Linked DNA regions of Homo sapiens. The protein of the gene in region 4 purifies or fractionates together with the protein of the main gene of each other region. This does not show direct contact. Each region holds a gene or a part of one and is shown on either strand. Other genes may lie near its edges.

The links.
Region 1: the proteins of TSPYL6 (region 4) and WDR20 purify together in Homo sapiens (co-immunoprecipitation; 3 studies listed by BioGRID and IntAct, with this or other methods). This does not show direct contact.
Region 2: the proteins of TSPYL6 (region 4) and ZMYM3 purify together in Homo sapiens (affinity purification with mass spectrometry; 2 studies listed by BioGRID and IntAct, with this or other methods). This does not show direct contact.
Region 3: the proteins of TSPYL6 (region 4) and USP46 purify together in Homo sapiens (co-immunoprecipitation; 3 studies listed by BioGRID and IntAct, with this or other methods). This does not show direct contact.

Annotation. Positions count from the first base shown.
Region 1 is NC_000014.9:102,191,746-102,199,005, reverse strand, and holds part of WDR20 (WD repeat-containing protein 20), read right to left. Parts: intron 5,544-7,260; coding exon of another isoform or gene 5,492-5,543; intron 4,069-5,491; coding exon 3,886-4,068; intron 3,880-3,885; exon of another isoform or gene 3,133-3,879; coding exon of another isoform or gene 3,102-3,132; intron 1,252-3,101; coding exon of another isoform or gene 1,159-1,251; intron 1-1,158. UniProt on the Homo sapiens protein: Regulator of deubiquitinating complexes. Activates deubiquitinating activity of complexes containing USP12. Anchors at the base of the ubiquitin-contacting loop of USP12 and remotely modulates the catalytic center of the enzyme.
Region 2 is NC_000023.11:71,251,059-71,258,515, forward strand, and holds the start of ZMYM3 (zinc finger MYM-type protein 3), read right to left. Parts: upstream 3,083-7,457; 5' UTR 2,971-3,082; intron 2,679-2,970; exon of another isoform or gene 2,516-2,678; intron 2,217-2,515; 5' UTR 2,198-2,216; coding exon 1,531-2,197; intron 544-1,530; coding exon 500-543; intron 187-499; coding exon 120-186; intron 1-119. UniProt on the Homo sapiens protein: Plays a role in the regulation of cell morphology and cytoskeletal organization.
Region 3 is NC_000004.12:52,649,168-52,656,427, forward strand, and holds part of USP46 (ubiquitin carboxyl-terminal hydrolase 46), read right to left. Parts: exon of another isoform or gene 7,144-7,260; coding exon of another isoform or gene 7,129-7,143; intron 1-7,128. UniProt on the Homo sapiens protein: Deubiquitinating enzyme that plays a role in behavior, possibly by regulating GABA action. May act by mediating the deubiquitination of GAD1/GAD67.
Region 4 is NC_000002.12:54,253,024-54,260,416, forward strand, and holds TSPYL6 (testis-specific Y-encoded-like protein 6), read right to left. Parts: upstream 3,207-7,393; 5' UTR 3,129-3,206; coding exon 1,896-3,128; 3' UTR 155-1,895; downstream 1-154.

The DNA.
Region 1 (7,260 bases), on a different chromosome or scaffold from region 4:
TAATCTCAAGGATGTGATTATTATTTCTATGCTGACAACTGCCAAATTGTAACCCCTAGTTTTGTGCTCCAGATCCATACATCCCACTATCTACAGGTCTCTCGAACTTAGCAAGTACAGACCAGAACCTCTGATCTTCCCCTCCATTCCCTGACAACTGCTCCTTTCCCAGTCTCACCCAACACAGCAAGAGACACCCAGAAACCTGATTTATTAATACACCTTTCCAATTCAGTCTCCAAAAAGCAGCCAGGGTACCTTTCAAAAACACCAATCTGCCTGCCTTGTGCACCTGCTCCCTTCTAAGGAATCCCGTACTTCAGGCTAAGAAACAAATCTGGATCAGGCCGTAGGTGATGTGGCCCTCCAATCTCATGCCCTTACTTCATGCCACCTTCCCCAGGTAAACCGTCCTTCTTTCAGTTTCCTTGGGCTCAAGGGCCCTCATGTGCTATTCCTTTTGCAGGAAAGCTCCATCTCCAGTTCCTTACCTGGTTGGCCTTCTTCTCACATGAGGCACAGCTTAAAACATAGCACTTCGTCCGAGAGATGTCCTCTGCCTCCCAGTTTAAAGTAGACCTCTGTGTTGGCCAGGCGTGGTGGCTCACGCCTGTAATTCCAGCACTTTGGGAAGCTGAGGTGGGTGGATCACTTGAAGCCAGGAGTTCCAGACTAGCCTGGCCAACATGGTGAAATCCCGTCTCTACTAAAAATACAAAAATTAGTCAGGTGGCCTATAATCCCAGGTACTTGGGTGGGTGAGGCACAAGAATAGCTTGAACCTGGGAGGTGAAGGTTGCAGTGAGCCAAGATTGCGCCACTGCACTCCAGCCTGGGTGACAGAGTAAGACTCTGTCTCATAAATAAATAAATAAATAAATAAATAAATAAATAAATAAATAAATAAAGTAGACCTCTGTGATTCTCTCCCTTTCTTGGGCCTGCTCTCTTGCCTCTTACATCACAAAGTGTCACCATCTGTGGTCACCAGTGTTTCGGGGGTGGTGCTATTATACCTCTCTTCCCTCCTGAGAGGGGTCACAGGAGGGCAGGTTTTGCCCACTGCTGCAGACCCAGTGCTGGGCATGTGGTAGGTAGTCAAGGTCCTGAATGAATGAAACAATGGCCGCAACTCTAGTTCAAGCCCTCAGCTCTCACCTGGACAGTTACTAGAGCCTCCTCACTGGTCTTGCTACCTTCATTCTGTCTTTCTTCATTCCAATCCACCTTCCACAAGTGCTGACAAGAGTTCTAAAAAAACACATTTGATCCTGTCACTCCCTTCATTAAAAGGCCAAAGGTTCCCCCACATCTTCCAGTGTCAGTTCCAAATTGCTTCACGTGACATGAAAAGGCTTTTATAAGACAAGCTGGTTCCAATTTATCTTTCCAGCTTCGAACTCTGACACTCCAAGTCCCACACTGTGATGTGGCCAAGCTGTTACTGGATGTTCTTTCACATGCCTAGTTGTTCCTCCAGCTTTGAAGGCCTTCCTTACCCTCCTCTAATGACTATGTACCCTTTAAGACCCACATCAAACATCACTTTCTAAAAGCATTTCTTGGAACTCCCCCAGTGAACTTAACATTTTAAAAAACTTTAAAATGCATACTAAAGAATTCCTGCGGCAGCTAGCCCTTGGTATTTTGTTCATATCGCTGTGCTGACACGTGCCCAGTACTCTCTGTCCATTCTTACTAAACTGTGAGCTCCCGGAAGGGCAAGAGCTCATCTGGCAACCATGCATGGTGGGTCCTGTAACCAATGAGTTTCTGGAATTAATTTCTGGTTCCAACTCTATCATCAACTTGCTACCTGATCTGGACAATTCACTTATGTGCTCTTTGACTATTTCCTCATCTGTAAAATGGGAACAACTCCCCACCCTCCCTGTAGAGGCCATAGGTAAAAGTGCCTTGAAACCTGTAAATGTCACACCACAGCAAAGCACGACACGATGACTACTTCACCACCATTCCTGGCACTCTCTAAGGAACAAACCTCCGGTGACCCTTGCTCTTAGACATTCTGACCAAAATCTGATAAAAATGTATCCACATGGCCAGAGGATCTCCTTACTATGAAGGGCAATCGATTTCAGCCTCAAGCTGTAAATGCAAAGCTGGCATTAAACCACACACAGTCTTAGCATTCTAAATAGCAATTTCTCAAATAAAATGTAAAGTGAGTATGAGATAACTCATGCTTAAATCATGAAGAATGAGGAGCTGCCTTCCAGCCTGCAACTCCCAGTCACCAGGGCAGGGATAGTTCTGGCCAATGCAGCCTGAGTGCTCCCAGAGCCCTGAGATTCTGGGGACGTGTGGTCTCCAACTCCCTGCCCTCCCCCTGCCACGACACACAAAACTTTCTTGTTCTCTAAGCGGCATTCTGTACCATCCTCGGCCAGGGCTGCCTCCGGGTCTTGTTTACTAACAGCCCTTACATGGCTCCAATCCCTGCCCCCTCCAATCACACTCTCCCCTACCTAAACAATAAAAACCCACAATGATTCCAAATTCACAATTTCTGCTAACAGTGCAGAGGAGGCCAATTTTGTGCGCTGCTCCCCAAACTCAGCACCAAAAAAATAATCATCCAGCTACTTAGAAATCACTTCTGCAGATGATACTAAAAAAACATCTAGGTAAATAAAATATTTTCTGCTTAACTTTTTTTTAATGGAAAATGGGATTAAATACTTTTCCTCTACAATCTGTCAGTCCAGATGGCAAGTTTTGTTTCCAGTCAACTCAGAGGAAACTAGAAGAGATGGCATGGTTCATAAGATCTTATCAAATCCACTGGCAATGTCAAACAGGAGCACCCTGGGTGGATACTGATTTGCATGAATAGCAAGTACCATAACTGCAAAAGAATCCAAATTTTAACTGCCATTTGTCAATTTGAATTTTCTTCCCCAAACAAAATTATTTCTTAAAAACCATACTCTATAATGTGTTTTTGTTCCAAGTTAATGATGTTAAAACCATGCAACAATGCAAAAGGGAGGGGGTCCCACATAGCCTGACCCTTGCGCCTCAGGGGCAAGGTCCCAAGTAGAGATTGGAACCCAGGGCTTCTAACTCAGCAAGCCTACCTTATCTTTTCCACTTGGTAGAAAAGTCATACTGAAACAGACGAGGAAGAATATTAAATATGAAATAGCAATACTTGAGGCTGAAAGATGCTCCAACAGCTTTAAAAAATATAATCTACTTGGCAATTTCTATATGCCACATTTAACAGTCCTGACATGTTCCTGAACAGACAGCTCAGATATCTCAGGCTCTTTCCAGAATGAAATTGAAGATACTAGAAACCCCAGTACATACTACAACACTGGCAAAAGCTATGTCATGTGACCAAACTTTAAGCGCCAGGATTTCCAACTATGTCAAAGATGAGTTTACAGTAACTATTTTCAAGAGCAAGTGAAGTACTCCTTAGCCAAATGACTGTCAAACATACATACAAAAGCTTTGGCTACAATTTAAGCAGCCTAAGGAAATGTCATCAAGTTCTTTGATCTGCATGAAATGTTCTGGTGATGTGAACCAACTTTGGAATTCCACATTTTCTTACTTAAATTATAAATACCGAGTTACAGTACTGTCCCTATCTCCATTATAGAAGAGTTTTAAAACACCTGTTATAGACACCTGAGCATGCTCCATAAAAATGCACAAAACAGTCACCCCAAGGAAGAACAGGTAAGGTCAACAAATTAATCCACCACATTTAAACTTGGGCATACTAGGTAGGAGGGCTGGGCGAATAAAAAATGGGCTTAGCTTGAAGTGCAAAATAAGGCCGACTACCCTCGGTAAGAATGTATCAACTCTTAAAGGGATTCTTAACAGCTAAGACAGGGTGCTACTTACTTCCTCATTAAAAAGTTTGCTAGTTTCTTTTTTGATTGGGTCTATAAGCTGGACTTGGCCTGCGGAAAAGCCCACTAGGAGAGAGACACTTTCTGCTGTGGCTGTTAGGTGGTTGAAGTCATGACAAGTAGGCTGTGTTCCTTTGTATATCCTTTTATCTATTGGTTTACTCAAGTCAGCAGCCTGGAGGAGAAAGAGAAAAATACATACAGTAAACAGCACATTGAGATGAGAAATCTAAGTTATGCTACTTTATACTCCATTATGATGTTTCATCTTAAAAACAAAGTGATTTAAAATGTTTTTTCAGTTGTGACTTAACATCATCTAACATTTTATAAAAGCACTTTCACATACCTTAGCCAATTAGATATTATTAGACTATCTATAATATGTTTACAACTGTTACTTTCACAACTTATTCTCCTTCAAATATATGTAACAAAGACTCCTGGACTTCAGCAGGAAATATCCTTGAGATATTAAATTCAGTATTTTCAAAATGCATTTCAAGCAGTGTCTAACAGAGTAACCACATAAAAAGCTCGGCTTTCAAATGTATCTACAGCACCTACATGCCCACTGGCCAGTTACCTGCAGCCCAGTGGTTCTCAAAGTGTAATCCCCAAACCAGAAGCAGCAGCAGCAGCATGTGGGAACTTAGAAATGCAAAAATCTCAAACCTCACCCCAGACTAAATGAATCAGAAACTATGGGAGTAGGGCCAGCAAGTCGTAAAGAGGCTTCCAGGTGATTCTGATGCCCGCTCAAGTCTAAGAACCACTGCTGGAGCCCACTCTATACAGGTGGCTCCCTTCCTGGGTCAAAATCCCTCTTCTGGATTAGGTTTCGGGGAACATTACTTATCGAGGCCATAATCAAAGGACTTTACATGCATTGTCCTTAATCCTAACAATAATGCTCCAAAGTGGACAATATTTTACCCATTTTACAGATGAGAAAACAAGTTTAGGGAAGTTAAATAACTTGACCAACGTCACCATACCTACCTAAGTAAGTGGCAGGGCTGGATTTGGAACCCAGGTCTGTTTGACCATTAAGGGGATGGGGAGAGAGAGTCAAAAGCAAATGATTTCTCACTTGGGTGAAAAGTGATTTTTCAATGTGCCCTCCCCACTTTCAAGAAGGATTCTTTTCTTCATGAGAAATGTCCTGTGGCATCCCAATATGCTGGGCTTTTATTGGTGAAATAAGGGAAACCCACCCCCTCCCACTCTTGTCTGAAAATCTCCAGTGGAGACAACTAACCCTGAAGCAGAACTTGTCCCTCAAGACACCCAGTTCACGCTGTGTGGCCCTCTGGGGCTCCCGGCTCTAGTTCTCTACTGACCGCCCCCTCAGGTTCTGAAGATTTCTTTCTTCCAAAGAGGCCTGTGACATCGAACCAAGTATTCTAATGTTGGACTTTCCAATAACAAATATAAGTAATGAGTAGAAAAGAGGACCTCAAAATTACAGGCGTCTTTGAGCAAACTCAAAACCTTGCACATGTAGAAGTCTGGACCTGAGCGGTAACAAGTAGTTCTGGGAGCCCCAGGGCAAAGGAATGAGGGTGCATGCCATGCGGACACTCTCCCAGCCTCACCTCAGTTAAAACGGAGATGAGAATCTCTGTTCTACCAACCTCATGGGATTGTCTGGAGGATGAAATAAGAGAATATATACATGAAAGAGCCTTGAAAAGTGTAATACAAAGCATGATACAAAACAAAAGGGAGTCCTGACTGGAGCGAGGAGAAAAGCGGCCAGTGGAGGGGAGCGGCCGCTGTACAGCAAGGCAGGCTGAAGGCAGCTCAGCCGAGTGCTGCGAGTGAGCAGCGGGGCCTGGGACGATGGCCACGGACAGGCTGTCTGAGGAAGGCAGCTTCTGAGCGGCTCGGATGGCAGGGAAAGAGAATCCTGGCCTGAGAGAACACCACATGCCATTCATCTCAGAACGAGGAAGACAGCCACAAAAAAAAAAACAAAAAAAAAACCTACAAATATAAAATAAGATATAACTGGCAGCTAGAGAACAAAAATCCAATTTGAAATACGAACAATTAAGTTATACATAATTACTGTATCAGCATATTCAACTCTTGAGACTTTTTTTTTTTTTAGTTTGCTTAAGAAAAATAAAAAATCAGCTAGGTGTGGTGGTGCATGCCTGTAGTCCCAGTTATTCAGGAGGCTGAGGTGGGAAGACTGCTTGAGCCCAGGAATTCAAGGTGACAGTTAACTAGGATTGCACCACTGCACTTCAGGCTAGATGACATAGCAAGACAAATGACAGCAACAACCACTTAGGGAACTTTCCCCTGAAAGAATATACCTAAAATTATGCGCTGAAATACACAGATCAATTTAAAGGCTGGCCAGAAATTAACAGAGAAAATAGCCTAATATAAATTAAAAAATACGTAATGTTTCTCAGAAACAACAGAGGAAGTAAAAGCACCTGTTTTTCCAAGTACTGCCACCAGTTTAGAGTTAGACTTAGGGACCCCTCACAACTATAATGGCTTCAGTTATTGGTATATTTTTACATCCCTGCCTCCCAATATGGAACTTTACTGAAAAGATGGAAGCATTTTAAATGAGAAGAGATTATTTTTACTCTTAAATCAGGTAAAATGGGCCAGAAGGCACGGTGGCTCACGCCTGTAATCCCAGCACTTTGGGAGGCTGAGGCGGGTGGATCACCTGAGGTCAGGAGTTTGAGACCAGCCTGACCAATATGATGAAACCCCATCTCTACTAAAACACAAAAATTAGCCGGGCGTGGTGGTGGGCACCTGTAGTCCCAGCTACTCGGGAGGCTGAGACAGGAGAATCGCTTGAACCTGGGAGGCGGAGCTTGCAGTGAGCCGAGATCGTGCCACTGCACTCCAGTATGGGTGACAGAGCGAGACTCTGTCTCAAAAAAAAAAAAAAAATTCAGGTAAATATTCTAAAAATATCCTGTTTATTCTACTAATTTGCTTAACAAACTTTCTTCTTAGGTCACTGCTCTTGAAGTGTACCAGTCCAGGACTAGTTTATTAGTCTGCAGTCAAATGCACTGCCTGTAGTACAGACATTGAGAATAAGAGTTTAGAAACTTTTATGGCAACGGACAAATTTTATATCTGTTGAATGTAATGATAAAAAGTTAGAGTTTATATTCTGTATGTCTTTTTCAGTTTCTTTTCCTATTAATTCTTTTTATTTTACAAAAGTATCAATCCACATAGACTAAAATTTTTTTAAAGTTGATCTGTCAACACTAGTGTGAGTGGCACTGTCTAGAAGACACAAAAGTAGACCTGGCTGACCCCAAGGAACACTTAGAATCTCTCTCACCTAAGGTCACTCCTCCCTCCCCAATCCCTT
Region 2 (7,457 bases), on a different chromosome or scaffold from region 4:
TCATGCGCTTCATGGAGCAGGACGGCAGGAGCTAGAAGATCCATGCCCTGCCGCATGCCACTTTCGGACCTTTTCCACACCCAGAACTCCCAGGTCACACTTCCTCAAATCCTACTTACTGCTCTCAGTGGAATCTACAACCTCAGGTTTTGGAGGTTCTGCTCTCCTAACGCGCTCGCTTCTCTTCTGTACCTCGGAAAGATGGGAGGGGAGGAAAACTGACACCCTGGCCAGGCTAACACTAGTACAGGGTTTGGGGGGGGATAGAAGATGGGAGGGGGAAGGGAGAGTGGGGACCCTTGGCCCAGCCCTTAGGAGGAGGGAAGAAAAGGAGGTTGGACTTTCTCCCCAACAAGCAGTAGACACTAGTGCTCCCTCCCTCCTCCTAACTCTCCTTACACACACTCTCTACAGAACAACATCTGGGAGGGAAAATGAAGGGTCTGTCCTTCCCAGAGCTAAGGGGGAACCAGACTCCTTCCAATCCCCTCCCCCTCACCCGTTCAGGCGGCTTCTCACTCGCCTTCGCAGTCAGGCCATCTCCTGCAAAGGAAGCAGAAGGCAGCCTAAATGTTGAGCCTGCCCTCACCACCCTCTCCCCGGCCCAACCCCCGCCTCCATTCCTGGGGAAGAACTTACTCAAAACTGAAAGGGAAAACTCGAGTGCCTGTGGCTTCTTGGGGCCCCTCTCAGGGTTACCTCAGGCTCTGTACTAAGGGTGGGGGGGTGCACGTGCAGCTATTCCATGAAAAAAAAAAAATCTATCCTTCCCACCAGCTTTCTGTCCCAATCCTTGGGGGTTAAGGAAACACAGGTAATATACCTTTCATTAAGAATTTATATTTTACCAATGAAAAACACACACAACCACCCAAAGGTAGCAAAAGGAAAAGGAAGCATCAGTGTATGGGTAGCTTCCCCTGGATTCAGGTGGTTATATAAGCCCTAAGACCCTCGTCACAGCCTGATAGAGGCACACCACTAGGCAGAAGAGGGGAGACACTAGAGCCTCTCAAGTCAAGGTTGTCCCTCCCCTATCAGAGACGCAATCCTAGACCCTGCATTTCTATCGCTCTGCTGAAATCCTTATGCTGTTAGGGGCTCCAGAACCTAGTTACCATTCATCAAACCCAGAAATCCCACTCCCATCTAGAACCAAAAAGCTGTAAAGGTCTTAGAACCAAGAAGCCTGGTGTACTCCCCCAAATCCTGAAGGAAGGACTCTGGCACCAAAAGCCCACTGGGGTAGGAAAAAGGGAACCCTTCCCACCAAATTCACTCCTCCCAACCTACGCTCCCTGAAACCTTACCCCATTCCTCCCCCACAGCCTGTGCCCACCCCTACTTTCCTTAATCTTCCTCTACACACCACCCCACTCCTCCCTCGTAAACCCCAAGTCCTTCCCCACACACATCCCTACACTTATCTCTCCACCCTCCTCCTCCCCACTACTTCCCAAAGCACATAGCCACCCCTCCTTACCACCACCCTCTCCCAGCCCTGATTCTCCAGATAATTAGGCAACCTACCTGGCAAGGAAGGATGTGCAGGGGGGCTAGAGCCCCCAGGTTTGGTCTGAGAACTGTTGATTCCATCCCCCAGAGTCTCTCCCACTGAAGGGCTAGGCGGGGCATTTGGGCTCTGTGGCTGCCCTTGGGGAAGCTCCTCCTCCTGCCCAGGGGAGCCCCTTCTTGCAGTAGCTATGGAGGTGGTCTCCTCCTCTTCAATATGTGGGGACTGCAGTGTTATTGGAGAATCTGGAGCCAAAGGCTCTAGTAGCCCCTCAGGTGAACAGGAATTTGCCCCAGCCCCTGGATCAGGTGGTACCACCTCAGGGGTCTGGCCCCCTGGTCCAGGCTCTAGGGTCTGATCTCCTGCATCCCATGCCAGGGTTCCCTCAGGACCGTGGTCCACCTCCGGGGGAGAGGGGGCTTTATAGAGCAGCCCCCCCAGCCCCAGCAACTCAGTGGCTCCATCCAGGACTCCAGGGTCTTTTTCCAGGCCAGCAGGGGTATCAAGCAGGTCCAGGGCTCCCGAGGATGGAGAAGGGCCAGGGGGGGCCCATCCTCGAGTTGGGGCAGTCTGGGATTCCAGTAGATCCTCTCCAAATTCCATGTCTACTGGTAGGTCTCCAGCCAGGGGCTTCTCTGGCAGGGTCAATGGGTCAAATGGACTGGGGAAATCACTGGGGTCCATGAGTATGGCTGGATATGTACTGCAGATTAGGAGTAGAAGAGGGGGCAGTAGAGGTGGTCTTAGCCTGAATTCCTTCTTATATAGGCTCTGAGACACACCCCATCATCCACTTGGATTTCTCATGAGCAGCCCCCACCACCACAATCTACAAGCATTTCCGAAGGCTTTAGTCCTAATGACCACTCCCCCCAATACAGCGCCCCCAGTGGGGAGAGGCGTTCCCCGCCCTGGCCCCGTGCCCACACTGGCCAGGCAGTCGGTCGTTCTACCCGCCCACCCCCCTACTCGACTGCAACTCCCATTCCCTTCCCCCCTTACCTTTTACCCCCCGCAACTCAGGCTGAACGCCCCCTTAGAGTCTCCTAAGGCCGTCGCCACCAGGAGCCTTTCCCGCCCCCGCGATCTCAGTTTCTATTCCCTCCCCACTCTGCAGGAGCCCCCCAGCTCCCCAGTCTTTACCCACCCTGTCTGGCCCCACCCCCCCTCCCCGCGTTGCTAGGTCCTCCCTCGGCCCTTCCCCCGCCCCCACAAACTGCCCTTCGCAACCCCTTCCCCCCAGTTACCTTTCAGGTCGCCCACTTCCTCAGCCCCGTCCCCCTTTCCCATTGCTCCTCCAGTCCTCCCTTCTCCTGTTGCCCACCCCCAACCTCAGGCATTTACAGGAAGACATTTTGGAGCTACGATCTCTCCTTAGACCCCCCCACCACCGCCTCCCGGCTACTGCAAGATCCCGCTTGCAGGTTCGGTTCGGCTTGAGCAGGCCCGACCCCTACCTGCGGCAGGGTTAGTGCAAAGGCTACAAGCCTAGAACTGCAGACAGCGACGGCCCCGCGCTCCTTCTCTACCTCCCTCCCTAGCAGCCGGGACAGGGGTCGCGGCCCCTTTAAATGGCAGCGCCGCTCGCAGCGCCCAGCGCTCTGCACCAGGCGGGCGGGCGGTGCCAGCAACCAACCCCATTGGCTGGCTCGAGGAGGGGGCTCGCGAGACAGCGCCGGCCCCCGGCGCGAGACTCCCAGTCCAGTGGCCGCCTGGAAATTGCGGAGTGGAATGCAGCCACTAGAGACGGCGCCTGAGCCCCCGCCCGGGGCCCCGTTAGTTGAGAAGGAAAAGATAGCCTCTGGAGCTTTGAAGCCGGCCCCCCGGGAAAGGCGGCGTCCCCTTTCCACCCAAGGGCCGAGTGCGCTCACCCACAAAAAACACAGATCTACGCACCTGCTCCCCTTACCTGGCTCAAGAGTCTGGCCCCCGTCACACCCTGCTCGCCCTACCTCCTGGAGCCCACTCTACCCGTGATCCCCTCCTCTCATTCAAATGGTTCCCGGTCCCCTCCCCCTCCCCGTGTCTCTCTTAGCTTCCCACTCGTGTTCACCCCCTCGGCGTCCGCCCCCCTCAATAGTCCCTACCTACGCCATGCAGCAGGCGCCTGCCAAGATTACCCTCCCCCATCCCCACCTCTCCGGGTCCCGCCCCCTGGGCGACTGTTGGGGTAGTGAGTGACAGCGGAGGACGGGGGGAGGCAGGGACCCAGCCCTCACGTGCCCCTCCTTCCCTTGTCTGCAGCCACGGGGCCCCCAAAACAGTCTGAGAGTCAGAGTTATGGGGTATCTGAAGCTTGATCCCCAGCCACACAGGTCGGGTTAAATGGCTCTGGCTCAGTGGCAACGCCTGTGCAGTAACCGTTACTGCTTGATGACCCCCAAACCAGGTCCTGCAAAGCTACCCCCTACTCTCTCAACAGTCTTAGGGTAAGTTCTGGGATCTTCTCCCTGAGTCTTCCTGCAGGAGCTCCCTGTATTATCTATGGAGTTTTCCTCCCTCACCAGGGCTGATCTCTCTCTCTCTCTCTCTCTCTCTCTCTCTCTCTCTCTCTCTCTCTCTCTCTCTCTCTCTCTCTGTATCTCTCTCTCTCTTTCTCCTCCAGCCCCCTTTCTGTCCTTGTCTGTCTCTCTCTTCTCGCTCTCTCTCTCTCTCTCCCCCTATCTCTTTTTGTCTCCTTCTCTGCCTCTCTGCTTCTCGTGCGCACGAGCACGCAGGCGCGCTACACGCTCCCCCCTCCTGGATGGTCCTTAGCATGTGGGTGTGGCTGAGGTTAGGCTAGAGAAGTGGAGTAGGGGTAGGTGGCACTAGCGTTAAGCCTACTGCCTTTAAAAAATTGTGCCAGCATCCATTCTCAGTCCGCATTATATTAATAGTTAGAGCACTTTACAATCCCCGCTCCCCACTTCCCACCACAGCCCCTAAGGGCTGAGAGCATTTAGTAGCCGAACTACTAGAGGAGGCTCAGGCTGGAAGGAAGTCTCCTTAGGAACAGGAAGGTTTGGTATCCAGTGCCTATTCTAGCCTGCCTCGTTGACTTCTGGCCTCTCCTCCTGGCCACACAAAGCCTCTCCTGCTCTTGTAGTCCTCGGGAGTTTACCCTCCCTTTTCTCATTCCTTTTCCCAGAAACCTTATCCTTGCTAGCTCCCCACATGGCCTTGAGGTTATCTTTGCTCCCTCCTACATACAGAGATAAAAGCCAGAGTTTCTTACTTTTAGATTTCCCAAATCCAGCTTTCTCTTTGTCTTAACCAGCATTCTGTGTACCCATCTCCTACCTCCTGTTTATTTCTATTCCTGGACCTCCCCTTTGCATTTTCTGCTTGTTCCATCTCAGTTGAGCCACCTAGTTTTTTCTGTATTGCCTGCCTTCCTCAACATATACTTGAATCCTTGGCTGCTCTGCTTGTGGAGGTGCCTGGTCACTATCTTTCAAGTTGAGGGGAGCTGATCTAACGGGGTTAAGTGGTGTGTTATTAATTCTAGACGCAGTGTGGTGGCCTAAGAATGGGTTCTGGAGTCAGACCAGATTTCTAATATCAGTTCTGCCTACTTTTTAGCCAGGTGACTTTGGACAAGTGACTTGTCAAGTGAAGGGCCTTAGTTTTCTCCTCTTTAAAACAGATAAGGAAACAATCTAAATGCCCAATAATAGGGGATTTTGGTTATGCAACAGACGTAGTCATTAACAACCACATTTTAAGTCTGGCGCAGTGACTCACGCCTGTAATCCTGGCACTTTGGGATGCCAAGACGGTTGGATCCTTTGAGCCCGGGAGTTCCAAACCAGCCTGAGCAACATGGTGAAACCCCTTCTCTACAAAAAATACAAAAAATTAGCAAGGTGTGCTGGTGTGCACCTGTAGTCCCAGCTACTCAGGAGGCGGAGGTGTGAGGATCACTTGAGCTGGGAGGCAGAAATTGCAGCGAGCTCAGATGGCGCCACTGCACTCCAGCCCGGGGCGACAGACGAGGGCTCTGTCTCAAACCAAACAAAACAAAACCCCACATTAAAAAAACAAAAACAAAAAACAACTAATGGCAGACAGCACAGAGGATTTTTACGGTAGCGAAAATACTCTCATGATACTGTAATAGTGGATACTTGTAAGTATACATTTGTTCAAAGATACAGAATGTAAACACCAAGGGTGAACTAACTCTAATGTAAACCGCAGGCTTTGGTTAGTAATGATGTGTTAATGTAGGTTCATCGATTTTAACAAATTTACCACTCTGATAGGGATGTTGGTAGTCAGGGGAGCCGTGACTGCATGGGGGAAGGAGGTATATGGGACTCTCCGGACCTACCTGTCAGTTTTGCTGTGAAACTAAAATTGCTCTTAAAAAATAAAATCTTTATTTAAAAAAATTAAAACCCATAGAATGTACAACACCAAAAGGAAGCCCTTATGTAAACTATGGCCTTTGGTTGATAATGTGTCACTGTATATTCATCACTGCAAGAAATTTACCACTCTGGACAGGATGTTGATAGGGAGGCTGTGTCTGTGTGTGGAGAGGGGTACAAAGGACTCTTGATACTTTCAGCTCAATTTTGCAGTGATGCCAAAACTGCTCTAAAAAATAAAGTGGGCCTGGTGCAGTAACTCCTGTAATCCCAGCACTTTGGGAGTCAGGAGAATCGCTTGAACCCGGGAGGCGGAGGTTGTGGTAAGCTGAGACTGAGCCACTGCACTCCAGCCTGGGCCACAGAGCGAGACTTCATCTCTCAAATATATATATATATATGTTTTGTTTTGTTTTGTTTTGTTTTTGAGACGGAGTCTTGCTCTGTCGCCCAGGCTGGAGTGCAGTGGCCCAATCTCAGCTCACCGCAAGCTCCACCTCCCGGGTTCACGTCATTCTCCTGCCTCAGGCTCCCGAGTAGCTGGGACTACAGGCGCCCGCCACCACGCCCGGCTAATTTTTTGTATTTTTAGTAGAGATGGGGTTTCACCGTGTTAGCCAGGATGGTCTCAATCTCCTGACCTCGTGATCCACCCGCCTCGGCCTCCCAAAGTGCTGGGATCACAGGCGTGAGCCACCGCGCCTGACCGTAAATAAAATTTTTATTTAAAAAAATTTAGGCCGAGCGCAGAGGCTCACGCCTGTGATCCCAGCACTTTGGGAGGTCGAGGTGGGTGGATTGCTTGAGCTCAGGAGTTGGAGACCAGACTGGGCAACACGGTGAAACCCCATCTCTACCAAAAGCACAAAAAATTATCCAGGCGTAGTGGTGCACGCCTGTGGTCCCAGCTACTCAAGAGGGTAAGGCTGGAGGTTGCAGTAAGCCGAGATTGTGCCACTGTCCCCAGCCTGGGCGATAGAGCAAGACTCTGTCTCAAAAAAATAAATAAATATATAAATAAAAATAATTTTCTGCATTTTGTATTTACTAAACTTTTTTTTTTTTTTTTTGAGACAGAGTCTCACTCTGTCTCCCAGGCTGGAGTGCAGTGGCATGGTCTCGGCTCACTGCAACCTCTGCTTCTCAGGTTCAAGCGATCCTTATGCCTCAGCCTCCCGAGTAGCTGGAACTACAGGCGTGTGCCACCACACCAGCTAATTTTTGTATTTTTTTTAGTACAGATGGGTTCCACCATGTTGGCTATGGTTGGTCTCGAACTCCTGACCTCAAGTGATCCACCCACCTCGGCCTCCCAAAGTGCTGGGATTGCTAAAGGCGTGAGCCACCACTCCCAGCCTTGTATTTTCTAAACTGTTCTACTGAGCACATATTGTTTTTATAATCATGAAAAAATGTTAGCACCTAAAAATAAGGGCTGGCCAGGCACGGTGGGAGGCCGCACTTTGGGAGGCCGAGGCGGATGGATCATTTGAGGTCAGGACTTCAAGACCAGCTTGACCAACGTGGTGAAACCCGTCTCTACTAAAAAATACAAAAATTAGCTGGCGTGGTGGCAGCTCAGGAGTTCGAGA
Region 3 (7,260 bases), on a different chromosome or scaffold from region 4:
GCAGGTCAAAATGGAAGTAGAATTTCACTGGATCCTGAAATACCAACAGCTTTGCACTTTGAGCAAACAGAAGGAAAATAATGATGAACTAAAAGAGTGAGAATAATTATGAAAACTAACAAGCATGAAGGCATCATAGCTCACACAGTGCTTCCATGGGCAGGATCTCTTCTGATGCTCCCCAAAAAGCTTTAAAGAAGGTATTTCATTGACTACCTTTGTTGTAAAAAGATAAATAGGATCTGAGATTTACCAAACAGGATTCTGAATTCCAAACTCCTCCACTTTACAACTATATGGAAAATAGAAGTTGTTTTGTTTTTCCCAAAGCCTTGCTGCTCTAAAAATGGTCCCGAAACCAGCATTATCTGTACCACCAGAGAGTTTGTTAGAAGTGCAAAATCTCCGCCCTGCCCCAGACGTGCTGAATCCAAATTGACATTTCAACTAGACCTCCAGCTAATGCCTATGCATGATAAAATTGGAGGCATACTGCTTTACTCCAAGGCAATTCTTCCATTCTACCAAATTACATCCCTTCATTCATTTATCAATATTTATTTATTGAGCACCAACCACATATGTGCTAGGCACTGTGCTGACAGCTGGGAAATCAACACTGAATAATACAAATAAATACAGTTCCTGCCCTCATAGAGTTGTCAGTCTAACATGGTGGTTTATCAACCTTGGATGCTCACATCGGAATCAACTGTGGCACTTAAAATACACACACACACATACACACGCAGGTGCCTAAAATTCACCCCAGACTACCTATATCTACATACTGTCAGAAACGCTGGAGACTGGGACCCTAGAAACTGCATGTCAATAAAGCTCCAATTGGTGGAACCACTTTGGAGAGCAATTTGACACACCTAGCAAAGCTGCAGATGGGCGCATCCTAAAAGCAGCATATTGACTTCCAGGATTATACCCTAAAGAAATGAAGACACCTGAGCAAAGAAGACAGAAGCAAGAACATTCGCTGCAACACTGTTTCCAGAGAGAATATTGTAGAAACTACCAAACTGCCCCTAAATAAGAGAATGAATAAGTAAACCATGGTTAAGTCAAAGAATCCTGTTACAGAGCAGTCAGAATGAATAAACTCGACCTCTATGTGTTGACATAATCTCAAATATACTTGTTGAGTAAAGAAAGACAGTTGCAAAAAGCTACACGATTTTATCCACACACAAACGTTGCAATCCATTGCTTATGAATTCATAAATACAAAGTAAAGTATAAGACATGTTTGGTAAACACCATATCAACTTCAGGAAAATGGTTTGCTCTGGGAGGAAGAGAAAGGAAAGAGATTGGGTTGAGTTAGTGTCTGTTTTTAAGGTAAAAGAGTCTAAAAAGAGTTAGTGCTGTTTTTACAGTAATATGTCTAAAAATAAAAGTAACCAAATATGGCTACATTTTAATATCTGTTAAATCTGAAGGGTAGGTAAACATATATAACATTATTTTTTCATGCTTTTTTGTATGTTAATGTTTTGTGATTTAATTATTATTTTTAAAATTTCTTTTAAAAGCTTCACAGGTGATATGATATAAAGCCAGTGCTGAAAATCTCTGTTCTGAATATATAAACTAATACAAAACCTGGCTATTTAATACCAAGAAAAAGTTAAGTTGGCCGGGTGCAGTGGCTCACGCCTGTAATCCCAGTACTTTGGGAGGCCAAGGTGGGCGGATCACGAGGTCAAGAGATCAAGACCATCCCAGGCAACATGGTGAAACCCTGTCTCTACTAAAAATACAAAATTAGCTGGGCAAGGGGGCACGTGCCTGTAGTACCCTACTCAGGAGGCTGAGGCAGGAGAATCGCTTGAACCTGGAAGCAGAGGTTGCAGTGAGCTGAGATCATGCCACTGTACTCCAGCCTGGCAACAGAGTGAGACTCCATCTCAAAAAAAAAAAAAAAAAAGAAAGAAAGAGAAAAAAGAACAGAAAAAGTTAAGTTACTAGCTTAAATAATTTTACATTCATTTTTTTAAAAACTTTCACATGGCAGGTAATTTCTTAAGCAATATTTTTTAAGAGGCTGAGGTTATTACCCAAGGGAAGCAATATTTCTCCAAGCATGGTCCTCAGCTCACCTATAACAGAATGTGGAGGGAGTAGAAGGAGGAGGGAACACTAATTTAAAAGGCAGATTCCAGAGCCCCAACTAAGACCTACTTAATCAAACTCTCTGGGTGTTGAACCCCAGAGTCTAAATTTTTAATAAGAGAATGCACATGTGGGAACCATTCTTTGGTACACCAAAGAACCTAAAACCATACATTTCTTTGTTTAATGAGGTAATACTCATCATACTCTGAAAATTAAAATGAAGTGTAGAGAATACTTTCTAAATATTTAAGACAGTAATTCCACCAGTATATATTCAAGCAGATCCAGATAAAAATTTTCCTGCACTGTGTACCTAACCTGAAGGACAGAGAAATGTATTTTAGGAAGATGACCATCGTTTCACAATGCCTTTCTAAAAGAACTTGAAAAAGCAACTGGGTAAACAGGAAAACTCTGCAAGTCCAGCTTTGCTGCTGTTCTCACCAGAACAGGCCCCAGACACGATTTTCACTAAAGCCAATGTCAATTAAACAAAGCAAATGTGGCTTGAACAAGGCCTTGCTGGCACAGGCAGGTCTCCCAAATTTACTCTCAAAATTCAAGGTATCTTCTCAGTGCTACTCTATTATCTTTTTGTTACTAGTTTTCACCCCTCCACAGTGATTATCTTGTCATCATTTTTTTCACCTGCATCTTCCAATCCATCCCTACCTTTCATGACTTTTGCTTTGGTCTCCTTGATTTTCCTCTTCACTGTCCCTTCTTCATTGTCCCTGTTTTCAGACAAAACCAAAACTACAATCCTGACTTTCAAGACCTGGAAAACTGTTCTCAGGCCCCTGAGTTGAAAACAAACCAGCATAACAAACACATGAAAAGATGTTCAACCTCCCCTAGCAAACAGGAAAAGTGCAAATTTTAAACCACAAAGGCACAATGTCACACCCATCAGACTGGCAAAACATCAAGTCTAGCAATATCAAATATCTGCAAACATGTGAAGCAACTGGAACCCCCAAACGCTGCTTGGTTGGAATGCAAATTGGCATAACTTCTTTGGAGAGCAATCAGGCAACTTATTAAAGAAGACGATCAAATTCCTTTGACCCAGCAATTCCCTTCCAGGTTTACACCACAGAGAAACTGTCAACTGTCAACTGTGTATACTATACACAGGGAGATGAGTTCACAACTGTTCATTGCATTAAAACAGCACACTCACAAATTTGTAAACCTGCTTACAACATTAAAATGAATGTGTCATAGCATATTTATATAATGGAATGTTATACAGCAGTTAAAATAAACTAGGATTATGTGTCTCTCAATGGATAAATAGCAAAATCACAATTTAAACAATAAAAGCAAACTGAGAGGAATGTTTAATATTATAAAGCATGTTTAAAACATGAAAAAATACACTATATCTAGTTTATGAATGCATACAAATCTAGTAAAAATATAAAAATATACAATAAACACTAAATGCAGAATAGTGGTCACTCTGTGGGGAGAGGCAATGAGATCAGGAAGGACTCATAGGTGGTTTTAAATGTATATATAGTATTTTATTTCTTCACTGGGTGGGGAGTACACGAGTATTCACTCTATTATTCCACATTTCTGTATGTCTAAAATTCACCATCACTCAGAAAAAAAGGCAAAGTCTGAGCTAATTTAAAAAGTATCTGAGGGTTCTAAAAGTGACATTGGAACTTGAGGAAGAAAAGGAAGGTTGGCCCTATGAGGGTAAAGTGAAGCTTTGGCGACCACAGAGTCCCATCACCATGATCTTAAAACTATCCATTGCAAAGAATCATTCTGAGAATTGGGGTAAACTTCCATGTACAGCACTTACAGCATCCCTCAAACTTCAAGCCATAGTCCCAGAAGAGAAATATTCCAAAAACCCTTTACTGTTAGGGTTGTTCGCTAACACAGAGTTCGTCTCAAGAATGTTTTCGTGGCAGGGCACAGTGGTTCACACCTATAATCCTAGCACTTTGAGAGGCTGAGGCGGGCGGATCACCTGAGGTCAGGAGTTTGAGACCAGCCTGGCCAACATGGTGAAACCCTATCTCTACTAAAAATGCAAAATTAGCCAGGCATGGTAGCAGGCAACTGTAATCCCAGCTGCTCAGGAGATTGAGGCAGGAGAATCACTTGAATCCAGGAGGCAGAGGTTGCAGTGAAGCCATCGCACTCCAGCCTGGGCAACAAGAACAAAACTCTATCTCAAAAAAAAAAAAAAAAAAAAAAAAGATTTTGCTGATTGATTTTTGGGTGGCCTTTTCTCTTAAAGACCACCAAGGCCTTTCAAACCCTTAGATCAGCATTTGGTTCCACCACAACTGAAGGTTTGTTATAAGAAGCTGCATTAAAATAATTAGACCAGAAAAGTTAACTAGACTAAAAGACACCATCTTTTACATCTCTTCCAGTTAGTTAGCTTTGGGTGGCTTCATGGGTAAGCTAGAGATAGAGATAGGTGGTTACCAAATACCTTTCTGATGATACCACAGAATTTAATACCATCATGGAACCCCAATCTATTCACACTAACTAGAAAGACCAGGAGGGGGAAAAAAAAGACATCTGAGCTAGAGAAATTTCTCTTAATTGCTAAGAGAATCAAAATTGAAAATGCCTTTCAATTATAACCCAAACATACCAAAATTCCACTTAGTGAAGAATAAATAAACAGATTTTATGGTATGAGTGAACTGAAGCACATAAAGTTGTTATACAGAAAAGGTATCATAATCTTTCATTCTAACTAAATACCAGCATTCAACTTTGTTTTCTCTGAGGAGTCCAAGAAAAACAGAAAAATCCGCAGAACTAATTGTCAGGTCCCGACCTAATATAAACCTCTGCATATGAGACCAGTGGGGCCAGAAAAACAGAATTTCTTTTCTTTAAACATTAATCCACCTCACCTCAGACTGTATTTTCTAATCCCAGCAACTATCAGAGTAGACCCTCATATGACTTTACACCTAGCTGATATATTAACTAAACTTATAATTGCCAACTATCTTTGAGAATGGAAAGCATGAATAACAGTAACAGAGGAAAAGGCAAGATATCTGTTCCCCCAAATCACAAGATGGACATATTTTTTAATAATTAAAAAGTTGTTTCCAACCATTCTCAAAATACTTGCCTTAGGTAAGTAGTTGACTTATCAAGATAAAACTATAAAAATACTCTAGTTTTGTTTCAAAATTGTAATGTTTACTTTCCCTTTATTTCCAGATAACTTCATTTATTTATATGATACATTTTTATTTACATGATTTTGTTTGTTTCTTTTTGGTAGAGATTGGGTCTCACTATGTTGCCTAGGCTGATCTTGAATTCCTGGGCTCAAAGAATCCTCTTGCCTCGGCCTCCCAAAGTACTGGTATTACCAGTGAGCCACCATGCCCAGCCTACCTCATTTATTTAAAAGAACTAAAATCTGGCACTCAAACTGATGTCAAAAATTATCCTGAGGCTGTTCTACAGACGCTAAAATGCTAACATGTCATAAGTTCAATACAGTTTTAAACAAGGTAGTTAGGTAATGAAGTGGTTGCTAACCAATTAAGAGGTGCAGATTTTCATAAAGCCTTTATCTAAGGAATTCTACCATGAAGTTTTTCATGACCAAAAACAGAAAATCAGTTTTACAAGATGAGAAAAACTAAGGTCTCCGGAAATACAACAGTTTGCCCAAAAGCACCATTAGATTCATGCTTAACTGGAGAGACACCCAATGGTGCAGATTTCAATTCTAACTCACATTGACTACAATCATGTCCTCATATAAAATAAAAGCCAGAAGCAGAATGTGTATACAACTTTGGTCAAACGAGAATGTATTTTTGAAATGTCCTGTTGTGTTAATCGGTCTTTCCACTGTACAGCTGCTGGGAGTTTATTCAACTTCTATCTGTGCTGATATAACACTGTATTGAAATTGTTTCATCTTTACCAATGTTAACACCCACAAGATAAGGAACAGCTGAGCCCCTTGGGGACAGGGACTCACCTCATTCATTTATTAAGCACTTGAGTATAGTCTGTGCCAACACCAACATAGCAGGTCCTCAACAGATGGCCATTTATCGGAACAAAACTCGTAATCATTTGATACACAGCATTTTCTCAGAGGTACATCTTACAGCATTATTAACAAATGAAATAAGATTAGATGATCTGAAGCAACTTGCATTGGTATGTCACATTTGGTTTCTTCTAACTAATGCTTCCTTTTTAGAAAATTTCTCAAGCTCTTCAAATAGGAAACTTAAAAAACCCAAAAACAAAAACTTTCCATTTGCAGGGCCATAAAAATATATAGGAAGTTAAATCCATTGGTCTGGACAAAAATCAGAGGATTATCAACAGAAGACATTTCCTCATGCTTGGTAGCAGCTAGTGCATTATGAAAATTACAACACACCAGCCAAACAAGCTTTACTATCTCTGAACCACACACTGCTGTGTGGCCAAGCTGCCTTGCCCTGAGCAAGTTCATCAAGAATTACCATGGCAGGAATTCACATGGAAGAAAAATTAAAACAAATAGAAACTAGTACTAAACTTCCAGTGAACAATAAAACTTCAGCAAGTGGGTGGGTAAGTGGAGGAATGAAGATATTTTCCAAGTTTCCTATAACTAAAACTGGCACAAGAAGTATGGGGAAAAGAGGGGATGTTTAGTTCTCAATCACACGAAGTATCTGCTACAAATTTGATTTCTGCTCTGCTGGGTCCTTTCTTATCTGGTGGAGGAAACAAATCCACTTTCAATGATAGATCTTCGTTTTTTCCTGTTACCCAGAAAAATGGTACCTTCTAATATCCTTTCTGAACACATATCAGCCTGTTCAAAATATGTTAAACGATGTGCTTAAGAAAAAAATGCAATCACCATTTGCTCTTACTACAACTACTCAAACCAGCTGGGACCAAAGTTAGGAGCGGGAAGGGTCAGTAAGAGGCCCACAGAGGAGCTAAGCAGTGAGAAGGGACCTGTAAGACACCTACCTGAAAACAATTCATTATTGAGCAAAGAATCTAAAGAGAGGTCCAGTTAATATTTACGTCTGATCCAGTGAAAAGACAGCAGTTTCCTCATACCCAGCCTTCTCCTCTGGGAAGGAAGACTGGGAGGGACAG
Region 4 (7,393 bases):
CCAACATGGTGAAACCCCATCTCTACTAAAAATACAAAAATTAGCCAGGCGTGGTGGCACACACCTATAATCCCAGCTACTGAGGAGGCTGAGAAAAGAGACATGTCAATTACTAAGTTGTTACCAGGACAAGTTATCAAAAAGGACAATGAAAGCCATAAATATTTTGTAGTTTATTTACCCATGAACACAATAGTTTCCAGTCTTCCGCATCAGATAAGACCAAGTTATTCAAATTAAAATGTTAAAGATACGGTTTTAACAGAAACAAGAACAGGCTGAAAACTGCCATGAATATCCATATCCACATAATGTACAAAAAAGAAAGACTGATATTATTCCAAATATTTCTATTTGAAAGTAAAAGAAAATCTGTACAGCTGAATCTTCCCAGTAAACAGAAAGAGAAAATATTATAACACAGTATTAATCTTCCACATAAGTAAGGCCATATGCAAACAAGAAAGAGAACACCCAAAATTGCAGTGTTTCTTCAAAGAACCCTTCTCTAGGGAACATATTTAACACTCCAACCATCTTCTATTCTTCTACGTGCATACTAAAAAAAAGTACTTCTCTTCCCATCATAACTAGTCAACCCAGTGTAAATTCTAGGCCCGATTTTCCCCTGAATCATTTCTGCCTTTTTGTTCAGTTTTCCCTGCCTAGAGCACCCATCACAATCTCTTTAGTTCTTCTATCCACTCTGAACTAGAAATCACCTTTCATTCCATACAGCTCTGTAGTCCTTTAAACCCTCTAGGAATTGCTAAAGAGGGGTGAGGGGCTGAGAAGAAAGGAGAATGGGCAATAAGAGGTCTGGCAGTCTATTTTACAGAACAGCCTGCCTCTGGACATGACAAAGAGAGCCAAGAAACTAAAAAGCCTGCTTCTGCGGATGTTTCTGAACTACTACTTTTGTTTTTTTTAAAGGAAGACAGAAGAGATTTATGAGAGATGAGAGAAAAGAAAGTGTACACTCACTCTGGCACTTCATTAGGTTCAGGAAGGGAGGCAAATAAAGGTACCTAGATTTTGAATGAATCCACTGGTTGTGGCTGAGAAAGCCTGGTACTTGTCAAGAACACCAACATATTAACCTTGCCATGAGGATAGGGTCTGACATGTCCCCTCAACCACCTGTCTAACAAACAGTAGGGTTTCTGAGTGATGAGGGTGGTGGTGGTAAAGAGAGGTCTTTTGGAAGAGGAACAGGTCTTTTGTGTGCTGACAGGAAAGCTGTGTCCACCACCAGTGTTCTGGAGATCCCTGTTTATTAGAAACCAGAGAGTGGAGCTGGCAATGGTCTGGGATATGTTCACTCAGCAGGGAGCTGCCCAAGTAGCAGTACTTGGGAATAGCCAGTAGCAGGCAGCAATAGGTGACCAGTCTCAGGAAAAGTAATGGGGTCCCATAATTCACACAGACCAACTTGCCCCCTGCTGTTCTCCCTTGACTTCATTAATGCCCAGCAATTGTCCACAGGCCATGCACCTGTACTGTCAGATGCAGAGCAGGGTGAGCTGAATAGGTTCTTAGACACAGCTAGAAATCCAAGTAGGAGGAGCCAGACCAGAGGTCCTGGGAACAAACCGAGTCCAAACAAAGGTAAATACAGTGTAACCTACAGCATCATTCGCTTCGCTTAGAAGGATGTGACCCATCGGCTGGGAGCATGTGATGTTAATGCAGAATAGCAAGACGACCAGGTGAAAGGGGAGCAGCACAGCCACCAAGGTCTCAATCTTCAGGTTGAGAGAACGGAAAGTTTAAACAGAGGGTACAGGAAAGTCAGAACAAAAAAAGTAAAGGGCATACCTAATGCTGTTGCCCAAGCTCAGGTCCAGCTGGTGGTGGCAGGCAACCTTCTGCAGGAGTAATTCCAAAGGCAAAGGTTAACCACACTGGAACCCAAAGGGCCTGGGGATCTCCACTGGCTCCCTTACCAGGCGACGTCTAGCTCTATGGGCGTCTTCACCCAACAGGTAGTACTGCAGTGGATTTGACCAGAGGTCCTCTTTAATAATCTGAGCAATCCTGTCGGACTCTGGAAGGCTGTGGTCTGAAAACCAGGTGAAGAAGCTGCAGATGACATGTCGGTTCCTATGAATGAAGGACTGGGGTCCATGGCCCCGGCGCCACATGATTAGAGTGGAAAAAGACACCACTTGGCCGAAGGATCTGACCTCATACACCTTTACAATCAGCTTGTTTCTGAAGTAAGGGTTTCTTTGAAAGAAGAACTTAAACTTGCAGCCTGTCCTAGGGTGTCTGAGCTCCTTCACTTCCAAATTGGTTAAGTAGCTTAACATCTCGGCATCTTGGCCTCTAATCATGGCAGACAGCTGTGGGTGGTGGCGGAAAGCAGTGACCCAGAAGCCCGGGATATTGCGAATGATGTCATTCCTCTGCTCCAGGTAGTATTCATGAATCTGCCCAAACCTGCGCTCCACCTGCAGGAGCGCCCTGTCAGCCTCTGCATTCACGGAGTCCAGTTCCAGCTGGATGGACTCCAGGGGGTTCAGGTGGAGACCCACGTTCAGGGGCCCGGGCCCGGGCCCAGGCCCTGCCTCCCTGTTTACCTCATCTATTGCTCTGTTTTCTTCCGCCACGTCCATTTCTTCGCCTCCTGGCTTCTCATCCACTGGGGCTGAGAACATGGCACACTCCTCAGGCTTCACGTCCTCGGCCTTCCCCTCTGCAATCACTTCAGACTCCGACCTCCCTGCCCCACAGGTTTCTAGAGCCTTCTCCCCACCTAGGCCGTGCGTCTCTTCACCCGGAAAGCCATTTTTGAGGCTGCCGTCAGTTGTCAGCGAGGCAGAGGCCGCTTCTAGGCCCTCCGCGGGTGGTGGAGTCACTTCCTGCCCCGCTTTGATGGCTCCATGACTGCGACCCGCATCGACCAAGATGTGGAAAGTATGGCCACCATCTGCGGGATCCTGGGGCGCGACCCCCTCCTCTGGAAGCCGGGGCGGTGGGAACACGATTGGCTCCAAGCGGCCATCAAACATATCTGCCATTACCTCTGTCGCCTTGCTCTTTTCTCGGGACCTCTGGCCCTGGTGCGGGTCTTCCAGAGCATAGTCGAGAGTAGCGGGGCTGTGAGGACTCTCCGGGAGGCTCATGTTGGTAGCGGCCAGGGCAGCAGTGGGTAGAGGCCAGGCCAGAGGTAGGTAGCGTCAACGTTCCTCACACAAAATGGCGAGTAAACACCTCGCCCATTTGCGCCGCCCACTCTTCAGTCTCGCGACACCCACCCCTCAGTCTCGCGACACTCACTCCTCAGTCTCGCGAGTCTGTGGTGGTGTCTTTACGTCTTTGTTATTTTAGCCATCGTGCTGGATGAGTAATGATATTACATGGTGGTTTTAATTTGCATTTAGCCAAAGTCTAATGAGCTGAGAACCTTCTCATGTGTTTGTTGGCCACTAGGATATTCTCTCTTGTGCAGTATCCGAGGCTTCTCCCTATTTCTCTACTGGGCTGACGTTATTTTTCATATGGATTTGTAGGAAGCCTTTGTACATGCTAGATACTAGTCAGTCATTCTTCCAGTATAGGTATTACAAATATTTCTCTTCCAGTATAGGTATTACAAATATTTCCTCCCACTCTGTGGGGTTACTTTTCTTTTGGACTCGTAGTTTCGCTGTCGCCGAGGCTGGAGTACAATGGCATGATCTCAGCTCACTGAAGCTGCCGCCTCCCAAGTTCAAGCGATTCTCCTGCTTCAGCCTCCCAAGTAGCCGGGATTACAGGCGCCCACCACCATGCCCGGTTTTTTTGTTTGTTTGTTTTGTTTTGTTTTGTTTTGTATTTTTAGTCAAGACATGGTTTTGCCATGTTGGCCAGGCTGGTCTGAACTCCTGGCCTCAGGTGATCCGCCCATCTTGGCCTCCCAAAGTGCTGGGATTACAGGCATGAGCAACCGTACCTGGCCTACTTTTTCACCATCTTAATGGTACCTTTTGAAGAACAAAAGTTTTTCATCTTAATATGTGCCAATTTGTCATTTTCCCCTTTACCTTAGTGTTTTTCTGCTCTGTTTAAGAAATCTTACCTCTCACCTGGGCACAGTGCCTCACACCTGTAATCCTAGCACTTTGAGAGGCGGAGACGGGAGGATCAGTTGAGCCTAGGAGTTGGAGACCAGCCTGGGCAACACAGCAAGACCCCATCTCTATTTTTAAAAAGAAGAAAAAAAGAGGAATCTTATCTCACCAAGATTGTTCAAATTTATATATGCCATCCATCTGGAATTGATTTTTATGAGTGGGGTCACAATTTCTTTTTTTCCATATGAATATCTAATTGACCCAGCACTGTTTATTGAAAAGACAATTCTTTCCCCATGCATAGGTTTTTAAATGTTTCTGTCAGAAGTGACATAAATCATTGGCTACAGCTAGTCAGTTGGCCTTGTCTAACTTTAATAGGACAGGGAGGTGTAATCTTCTCTTGAGCCTGGAAGGAGGAAACTGGAAATATTGGCAAGTGCTGTATCACTCATCATGAAAAATAATTTGAGAAATATATAAAAGACCAATAGAATTAGGCCAAAGGACATAGAGAAAAGGTAATAATAAACAGGAGAAATTTATGTAAGACAATACAGAGCATTAACCAAAGATTAATAATAAAAGGAGAGAGAAAATAAGCAATATTTGGAGAGAAAATTATAGTCACATTGATGGTTTAAATAAATATAAGACAGGATGTTAGACAGCTTTATGCCAATACATTTTCAAACTTAGATGAAATATATGGCTTCATAGAAATGTATAACTTATCAACACGGACTGAAATGCAATAGAAAATCTAAATAGACCTAGAGACAATAAACAAATGGAATCAGTAGCTTAAAAAAATGTTTCCACAAAAATAGCATGAGGTTCAAATGATTTTGAGGCGACTGCTACCAAACCTTCAAGGAACACATAATCCATTTTTATATTTATTAAACATTCAACAAATATTTATTAAACATTCAACAAATGTTTATTGGGTACCTACTGTGTGCCTGGTACTCTTATAGGCCCTCTGGATATAACGGTGAACAGACCAAAGATTTCTTCCCTCTTGGGGTTTACATTTTAGCAGGGGAGAAAGATAATAACAAGAAACCAATATTGCACATTAGAAAGTTATAAGTGCTATGGAAAAAACAATAGAGCAAGGAGATTGAAAGTCCTGGGGGTAGGGAGTGGGGAGGAGATTGTAGTATGAAATAGGGTGGTCAGAGGAAGCCTCATTGAAAATATGAGATTTTGGCAAAGAGTCAAAGAAGTTGAGGGAGTCAGCTAGTAGAAATCCTGGAGGAGAGCATTTCAGCACGAGAAGTGCTAAGCAGAGGCACTAAGACAGGAGCATGTCTGGAATGTTCAAGAAATAACAAGGAGGCCAGCGTGACTGGAGCACAGTGAATGAGGGAGGCTAGATCAAGTAGGGTCTTGTATGATAGTGTAAGAAATTTGGCTTTTATTCTTAGTGAAATGGGAAATTACTACAGGATTTTGAGCAGAGGACACAAAATCTGACTTAAGTTTTGCGTGAATCACTCTGGCTCCTGGGTGAAAAATAATCTGTATGGTGGCAATGGTAGATTTAGGGGGATCTTTTGGGAGGCTACTGCAGTAACCCAGGTGAAAGATGTTTCTCAGACCAGGTGGCAGCAATGGAGGTGGATGGTGGACATAGTATGATGGTAGAGTCAGCCTGATTTAATGGTAAATTGGCTATGGGATCTCTTAGTTCATTTTCTGTTGCTGTAACTGAATACCTGAGACTGGGTAATTTATAAAGAAAAGCTTATTTAACTCACAATTCTGGATGCTGAGAAGTCCAATATGCTGTGCTATGAAGTAGCATGACAAAAAAGCAGAAGAGCAAGCAAGCACCTGGGAAAGAATGGACAAGAGAGGCTGACTTGCATTATAGCAACCCACTCTCTCAAAAACTAATCCATTCCCATGAGAAGTTATCCAGCCTTGCAAGAAAAACATAAATCCATCTTAACAACCTGATCACCTCTTAAAGGCCCCACCTCCCAGCATGGGGTGTAAGAGAAAGAGAGAAGTCAAGGATGACTCCAATGATTTTGACATGAGCAACTGGTAGGATGGAGTTACTGGAAGCAGAGATGGTGAAGGTTATAATGAGGAAGATCTTTGCAGGAAAATCAGAGTTGTCTCTCTTTTTTAACATATTGTTTGAGATGATTATTGGACACCAGAGTTGAGATGCCAAGTGGGCATAATGAGTTTAGAGCTCAGGAGAGGTCTGAGATAGTTATTCACATTTTGGGATAATCAGCATGCATGGAATTTAAAGTCAAAGGGTTGGATGAGAACACTAAGATAGTGAGTCCTGATAAGCTGGGCCCTGAAGACTCCAAAAGTATAAGGTCAAGAAAAAGAGGAAAAACAGCAAGGAAGACTGAAGAGAGACCAGCAGGGTAGGAAGGAAACCAAGAGAGTGCAATGTGCTTGAAGCCAAATGTGTAAAGGAAGGTGTTCAGCTGTGTCACAGGGTGCTCACATGTCAGTTAGTATGAGGTCTGAGAATTGACCGTCGGATTTTACAACAAAGAGTCACTGGTGACTCAAAAAGAGCACTTTCAGTGGAGTGGTGGGGGTTGAAATATGTTTGAAAGGGAAAGGGAGAAAAGAAATGGAGATTGAATATTGACAATTCTTTTGAGGAATTTTTCTCCAAAAAGAAACAAAGAAATGGGATCATGACAAGAGTAGTCAAGCTACTTTCAGTGGAGTGGTGGGATAATAGCTTGGCTGGAATAAGTTTAAGAGAAAACAGGAAGCGAAAAAGTGAAAACAGCGAGTATATACAACTGTTTTGAGAAGTTTTGTTTCAAAGAAATGGGATGATAGCTGGTGGGGAAATGGATCAAAGAACGTGTTTTTAAAATGGGAGATGAAGCATGTGTAAAGAAGCAGGTTGATGTGAATGATCCAGTAGGGAGCATAAAACTAATGATGTAAGAGACAGAAGGAAGCATTATTGGAGGGATGTCCTGGAATAGACAAGAGGAGGTGGAATCTAGTACCTAAGTGGAGAAGGAGATGTCAGCTTTAGGAGCATGGCAAGTTCACTAGTGGTAACTGGCAGGAAGTCAAAGTGTGAGGTGTATATGCTAGTAAACAGGTAGAAGTGATAGTGAGATTTATGAAATCGTCTTCTGATTGCTTCATTGTTCTCAGTGAAATAGAAAGCAAGATGATCAAATGAGTGTGAGGATGGGGCAACAGGCAGTGGGAGTCTGAGGACAGAGAAGAAGGTATGAAATAGTTGTCTAGAGAGAAGAGTGACTAGACTGTGACCTAAAGTATTGTCAGACAATGTTAAAGTCATGAATTGGAAATGAGGCCCATCA